Homo sapiens: one gene and its partner. The protein of the gene in region 1 interacts with the protein of each later gene in a pairwise test. Each region holds a gene or a part of one and is shown in the gene's direction. Other genes may lie near its edges.

The links.
Region 2: the proteins of FBLN2 (region 1) and JOSD1 interact in binary tests that used the Homo sapiens proteins (3 or more experiments, as listed by UniProt).

Annotation. Positions count from the first base shown.
Region 1 is NC_000003.12:13,547,018-13,550,766, forward strand, and holds the start of FBLN2 (fibulin-2 isoform a precursor), read left to right. Parts: upstream 1-2,107; 5' UTR 2,108-2,191; intron 2,192-3,749. UniProt on the Homo sapiens protein: Its binding to fibronectin and some other ligands is calcium dependent. May act as an adapter that mediates the interaction between FBN1 and ELN.
Region 2 is NC_000022.11:38,699,144-38,702,892, reverse strand, and holds the start of JOSD1 (josephin-1), read left to right. Parts: upstream 1-1,949; 5' UTR 1,950-2,093; exon of another isoform or gene 2,094-2,274; 5' UTR 2,275-2,905; coding exon 2,906-3,090; intron 3,091-3,749.

The DNA of each region.
Region 1 (3,749 bases):
CCACTTTATCTTGTGGAAGGCGGGCCAGGCCTTGGGCTCCCTGGGCTGCAGAGTGAGCTGCATCTGGCTCAGTGCCTCTCCTCCCAGGCCTGGGGAAGGGAGCCTCATTAGCAGCTGCCCAGGGTCTCTATCACCCCAGGCCACTGCCCCTCCTTCCCCCACAGGAGGAAGGATTCAATCTGTCATTTACTCATCAGATATTTACTGAGCACTCCCTTGGGTCAAGTCCCATCCAAAGTACAGATAATCCCTGACTTACGATGGTTCGATTTAGGATTTTTTGAATTTAGGATGTTGAGAAAGTGGTACACACCCAGGAGAAACCCTACTTGGAATCCCCAGGCAATCATTCTGTTTTTCACTTTCTGTGCAGTATTCAATGAGTTACATGAGATATTCAATGCTTCATTATAAAATAGGCTTTGTATTAGATGATTTTGCCCACCCGTAGGCTAGTAATGGAAGTGTTCTGAGCACATTTAAGGTAGGCTTGGCTGAGCTATGATGTTCTGTAGGTTAGGTGGATGAAATGCATTTTCAACTTACTATATTTTCGATTTACGATGGGTTTATGGGGACATGATCCCATTATAATCGAGGAGCATCTGTACTTTCGGTTTGGCTCATTTCGGTTCATTTGATCTTTCCAATAACATTATAAGATAGGCTTTGATGTCGTTATGTTCATTTTACAGTTGAGGAAATAAAGCCCAGAGAGGTGAAGTAACTTGCCCAAGGTCACACAGCTGGTGTGTGGTGACTTTCTTAATGACCAGGTGATCCTACCTATAGTCATTTATAAATGAATAAGAGAAATCAGCCAGTGACAAGTACTGTAATAACAGTGCGGCCGAGTCCCAGGGTGGAGAGTGGTAGTTGCTACCTCTGCTGGGGTCTCAGGGAGGGCTTCTCTGGGGGTGGTGGGATTTCAGCTGCATCTTAATGCAGGGATGAGTCAGCCACGGTGGATCTGGGGAAGAGCATCCCAGGCAGAGGGAACAGCAATGGCAAAGGCCCTGAGGGAACAGCAAGCACAGAGCTCCAATGGGGAAACGGGCCCAGAGGGAAGGCACCTGCCTGGGGTTAGACACAAGTTGGGGCAGGCCAGGCACAGGCTGCCAGCTCAGGCTTTGGCCCCTCCATCCGCTCCTGGCTTCTCTGTGGGTGGCCCCATCTAAGCCAATGGGCCCTTCCTGGCTCCACCTCCTCTCTGCTGTGCGGCCCTGGGCAGGCAGCTGCCCTGCCCTGTGCCTTTGCTCTTGGCTGCCTCACCCCTGTCCTGGGCTGCAGGGAGACCCCTGGGGGTGGGGGCAGGCACACTTTGGGCCCATGGCTGCTGCTCAGATGTGAGGTGGTGACCACCAGGCCATACGTCTCTGGACAGGGATGGGAGAGACTCAGAGAGACACAGAGACCAAGAGATAAAGTCAGAGGGAGATGCAGAGACCAAGAGGGACAAACCAAGGGAGACAGAGAGATGACATTAGATCAGAGATGGAGACCCCGAAAGAGACCCAGAAAGGGATCGGTGTGGGCTGGGGGAAGAGACACCCCGGGGGTCACACAGTGGTCACAGGCATCAGAGCTGGGCTGAGGAAAAGGACAAACTGAACCTGTTCCAAAGCTGGGGGCTCAGTACCGTCTGCCCAGGCACATGCAGCAGCAGTGGGGCTGCAGGCAGGCCCCCAGGGTAGGAAGCAAGGCGGGTGGGAGGCAGGGCCTGGCCTCTGGGCAGTTTTGTAGCCGGGCCCCTCAGGCCCTCACAATGTGCCCAAGGCTGCTGGGCCCATCTTCCAGGGGTGATCACTGAGGCTCAGGCTGGCTGAGGTGGCCGGACCCCAACCCCTGGCCCTGCCCTGTGGGCAGCAGTGCCAGGTCTGGCACTCAGAGGTTAGGCCGGGCGCAGGGAGGGTGCGGGCTCCGCAGCGAGCGCGCCGGGCGGCCTCTAGGAGCCGGGTCAGCGAGTCTGGGCTCTGAGCGAGCGGCGCCGGCCCGGCCCCCTCTCCGGCGGGCGGCCGAGACCCCGCCCCGGAGGCGGAGGCGGAGTCAGGGGAGGGGGCCGGGGGCCGGCTGGTCCCGCCTCTCGCGCCTCCGCCCCGCCCCGCGCGCACACAGCCAGGGGCCGCCCGGGCTCTCGACGCGCCGACGGCCGGGCGGACGGACGGACGGACGCCGAGCGCAGTGCCCCGCGGTGAGTGCACGCGGCCCCTCCCGCCCGGACTCATCCCCGTCGGTCCGCGCCTCGCAGCTCAGGACTCGGGGGCGCTCGGACGCACCGACGGCTCGGCGGACCCTCGGACGCGCCTCGCGGGCTGCCCGCGCCTCCACCCGCGCCGCCGGTCCGACCGGGTCTCGCTCTCCCGGTCCCAGCGCGGGGACGGCCCGCGAGCGCCGCGACCCAGTGTACAGATGCGGGCACAGAGGCCGGCGCGGGGTGGGGGCCAGGGGTCCGCGGGCGGGTTCCCCCACCCCAGGTCCGCAGCTTCCTCCGCTCTGGGTTTCACTTCTCCCCCCTGGGCCGGCTCCCACCAGTCATCCCCTCTGGTCCCACTGCCCACCCCCACCCCGACCGCAGGACCTTGCCGCCCCTCCAGTCCAGAGGGCCGGGTCAACCCCCTCGGGGAAAGAAGACTAGAGTCCCTGGTCTAACACTACCCCCTCCATCACCCCCAAGTCACACTCACCGCCACACACGCACTCACACAAGCAGAAGTTTCTGCACGCTCTGCATTGGCGCGCCCACCCTGCCTGTCACCACATCCTCCCTCTCCCAGCCCCATGCTCACCCCGCCAGCTCCCCCAGGCCAGAATCTCTCACACTCATCTCACGTCCCCTTAGCACACAATGCTCCACACACACATGCCTTGCACATTGGCACCCCTCCGAGGCATGCCTCTAGCAGACAGTTGTGTCTCTGATAAACACATGTGCCCTTACTGCCCTCTGACACGCACACACGTCCGCCACACAGGGGTAGCTATCACATGCATATCTCCATCATATGTATCACACATGTGTCTCTCACATGCGTGTGCTCCTCAAATACCTGGAATCACAAACACTGGGAGTGCCACACACTGTGAGTCTCACATACGAGTCACAGACCCCCACGACTTCACAGTCCCAGCCCCCCTGGCACTCCATGGGCAGTCCTCCCCTGTCCTAGGGGGTGGGGAGCCGATTTTGGAGGAGGGAGGTGGTTCCTCCTGACAGAGGCTGCTTACCATGGGACCTGGGTGGCTGTGGGGAGCATGGGGGTGGCTCAGCCTCAGGCTGGGCCTGACTCCTCACCTCCGTGCATCCTCTCTCCCTTCCCCTGCTCCAGTCTCCGAAATAGGGGTGCCCTCCCTCCCTTTTTTGCTGCCACAAGGAGTTGCCCATATCAGCTTTGCAGTGATCACTTGGGCCAGTCCCAAGCAGGCCTGAGCCAGCAGGCGTCCCCTGACAGGCCAAAAAGAGAAAAAGGGAAGTCAAACAGGATGGTTTGGGTGCTTGTGTCTACCCTGATGCCCCTGAGATGCTGGTCCGGGCCCTCCCAGAGGGAGCCCTGATGAATTGGGTGGCAGCTGAGAAGTGTTCCCTCAGCCTGGCATGGATTGGGAGCTGGTGTGTGTTTGTGGCTGATAGGGGCTCTGGGCCTTAACTTCCCCATATGCCAAATGGGGTGAAGACTCCCCAGCAGGAGGAAGAGAGGGAGGGGGAGCTACTCCCCTGGGGTGCACCCTTGACTTCCCGCCCTCCCCTTCTG
Region 2 (3,749 bases), on another chromosome or scaffold:
AAAAATTTAATTCAAAAGTTGGCTGGACAGAGCCAGAGGGCTCCTCACCCTGAGGCAGGCACTCCAGCGTGTTAAATCATAACGTTGAGGGTAATGGTGTTAAAATAGTCACGTTTGCCAGGTGCAGTGGCTTACACCTGTAATCCTAACACTTTGGGAGGCCAAGATGGGCAGATCACCTGAGCCCAGGAAAGAGTTCGAGACCAGTTTGGGCAACGTGATGAAACCCCACCTCTACAAAAATAAAAATAAAAATTAGCCAGGTGTGGTGATGCATGCCTGTAGTCCCAGCTACTCAGGAGGCTGAGGCAGGAAGATCGCTTGAGCCCAGAGGCTGTGGGTTAGCCGTGAACGCGCCACTGCACTCCAGCCTGGGAAAGAGAGCAAGACCCTGTCTCAAAAATAATAAAACTTCAGGCCGGGCGCGGTGGCTCACGCTTGTAATCCCAGCACTTTGGGAGGCCGAGGCGGGTGGATCTCAGGAGTTCGAGACCAGCCTGGCCAACATGGTGAAACCCCGTCTCTACTAAAAATACAAAAATTAGCCGTGCGTAGTGGCAGGAGCCTGTAATCCCAGCTACGCGGGAGGCTGAGACATGAGAATCGCTTGAGTCCAGGAGGTGAAGGTTGCAGTAAGCCGAGATCGCCCCGTTGCAATTCAGCCTGGGCGACAAAAGTTAAACTCCATCTTAAAAAAAAAAAAAAAAAAAAAGGCCGGGCACGGTGGCTCACTTCTGTAATCCCAACACCTTGGGAGGCCAAGGCGGGTGGATCACCTGAGGTCGGGAGTTCGAGACCAGCCTGACCAACATGAAGAAACCCCTCTACTAAACACACAAAATTAGCCGGGCGTGGTGGCGCATGCCTGCAATCCCAGCTACTCGGGAGGCTGAGGCAGGAGAATTGCTTGAACCCGGGAGGCGGACGTTGCGGTGAGCGGAGATCATGCCATTGCACTCCAGTCTGGGCAACAAGAGCGAAACTCCGTCTCCAAAAAACAAAACAAAACAACTAAATTTGAAGTGCAACAGTTTCTTCTCGTTTTTCCAGTTTTACAGAAAACCCAAAAGAAGGGCAGCTAAGGTGGATAATGATGCCTACCACGCACCCTAAGAGTAGGTAAAGGGGAAAAAATGAAATCCACGTGGGACTGCGAGTAGTTTTCGCCTTTTCCCGAAGACGCACACAATGCGCTTAGGTATACCTCGCGCAGAGGTCTCTGCAGAGAGGAAAGCCACCGTGAGAAGAGCGGGGAGCCCCCAGGCAAGAAGGCAGTGGCTTGTGTGTAGTGAACCGAAATGCGACACCAAGGAACTGCAACAGGATTCTCCTTTCCACTTGAAATGTGACTCCCAGCGAGACACCTACCCTTGACGCTCCCTGGACAGTGCGGCACGGTCGGGCCCACTAACCAAGGCAATTTGCGCCCGACCGAATCAGGTGCTTCAAAATCCCCCCTGGTGAGCCGCGCGTTAACCACACATAAAACAGTCAACGCAGAAGGAGCGAGAACGTTCGGCCGAAAAGCCCGGCACAGAGAAGGGAGGGGTGCTGAAAGCCGCGGACTGCAGCCGCTGGCCTGGCTGCCGCCCCGAAACAACGCCCACGCCCGGGAGAAGGGCAGGCTGGCGTCCAGGTAGGACTCCCTCAGGCCGCCCCGCCAGGGGCCGCGCCGAGCGGAGCGGCTGGACCCCAACCCTGCCGGCCGCCGCCGAGGTGCGCAGCCCGCAGCCCCACACCCACGGCCTTTGCAACACCCCAACCGTTGAACTGCGCCCCTACACGCCCGGCGTCTGCGGCTCCCAGGCCGGTGCCGATGACGTCAGACTTACGTCAGGCGTGACGCCACGGCTGGGAGGAGTGAGGACGGCGCGGGAGGGCGTTTCCGGAGCACGCGCCGGGCGGGGGCCGCTGACGTCGGGCTCAGGTGCGCGCGCCCGCCCGCACGGCCCAGTTGGCGGCGCGCACTCCAGGTGGCGGCCGGCTGCGGTGAGGGGACCGCCAGCGGCGAGCAGTCCCGGCGGCCCTGGGGTCTGCGGCCGGGGGCGCGGCGGGAGGGCGTCTGGGCCTGCGCTCACGTGACGGGCGGGGAGGTTTGTGTAGGGGCTGCGAGCCGGGTGGGCGCGGGCCCGGGAGCGCGAGGCTGACTGTCCGGCCCCACCCCTCGCGGGCCAGCCCTTCGCCGCGCGGAACCTTCCCTCGGGCAGGGGCCGGCCCCGCCGCTCACTTCCCGCGCCCGCTCGCCGCTGACCGGAGTTGTCTCCTCCTCCGCAGGGCCGCGGCCAGAGGGCTAGAATCCGCGCCTTCCGAGGGAGCCGCGCCCTGCGGGCCCCACCGTACCCGAGGGGATGGAGGGCTGCCCCCGAGGCCCCCGCGCGGCTCGCGGTCCCACGCCTGCCGGCCCGCGCTAGCTACTCGACTCGTGCGCTAAATTTATCCGTCACCCAGGCCTTGTCTCCCGAGTCATTGGCGTCGTGGTTCAAAAGAAATGGAAGAAAAGGAGCGATGTGACCGATTGTGTTCGGTCCTCCTGCTTTGAGGCCTGGCATTTGCAGAGGGAAACAGCAAGAAAATCGTGGGGATTTTGGAGGGGGGTGGGAGGGAAGGGTGGGGAAACGGAAACAAGGTCTTACATTTTATGTGTTTTTTTAAATTCTGCACTTTGACAGTGGTAGCAAAATAAAAGTAATCCAAAAGTTATTTTTCTATTGAGAAGAGAGAAGAGGTGGGTTTTATTTTTTTCCTTTTGATTCCAATCTTTTCTCCCAGTGACAAAGCATAAATCATGGACACCAGAGAATAAGGTGGACCTCAGGAATCCGGAAAAGACTGAGAAGCTTACATTCTTCCTCTAGAGGGAAGAGTGGGGTGTTTATAGCCATCTCTGGAACCTAAAACAAAAAACATGAGTTGTGTGCCATGGAAAGGAGACAAGGCCAAATCTGAATCATTGGAGCTGCCCCAGGCAGCACCCCCACAAATCTACCATGAGAAACAGCGCAGGGAGCTTTGTGCCCTCCACGCCCTCAATAACGTCTTCCAGGACAGCAATGCCTTCACCCGGGATACGCTGCAAGAGATTTTCCAGAGGTAGGGGACCCTTCTCCTTGGCATCTTGATACTGATATTTCTGGATTTCTGTGGGTGGGGCAGTGTCTCAGCTTCATAAACCTTCAAAGCTGTAGGTATTAGCTAGATTGCGTTAGCAGGTATAAGGGACACAAGACATGAAAAGATAATCACTACCATTTATCAGGCACTTACGGTGGGCTAGGAAAGTACTCATAGCCTCAGCTGTGTTTTCTTGAGTGATCTTCAACAGTCCCGTGGAATACGTGTTAATATGTGATGTTATTTCCATTTTACTGATGAAGACACATTTAGTTCAGTACCTCGCCCAAGATAACAAGACTTGGAGCTGGGGTTGAATTCTTATATCTATGCTGTTGACCACTATGCTATAATGCCTGTAAAGCTCTGCTGCCGAGGAGTTTACAGTCTAGAAGTGGGACTAGATACGTACACGTTCAGTCACCTGTCTTTAAAGGTGGAATGTGGTGGGTACCACAAGCAAGATGTATAAACAATGCTCAGCTTTTCTGTGAGGCCATGTGCTGGCAGTAGTGCTGTTCGTACATTGCTTTGTGAAGCTCTCCCAACAGTCATTTCACTGCCTGTATTATGCTGATAGGCAGAAAGGTCAGGTAATATGTCCAAATAGCTTCTAAATAGCAAAGCTATAATTTGAA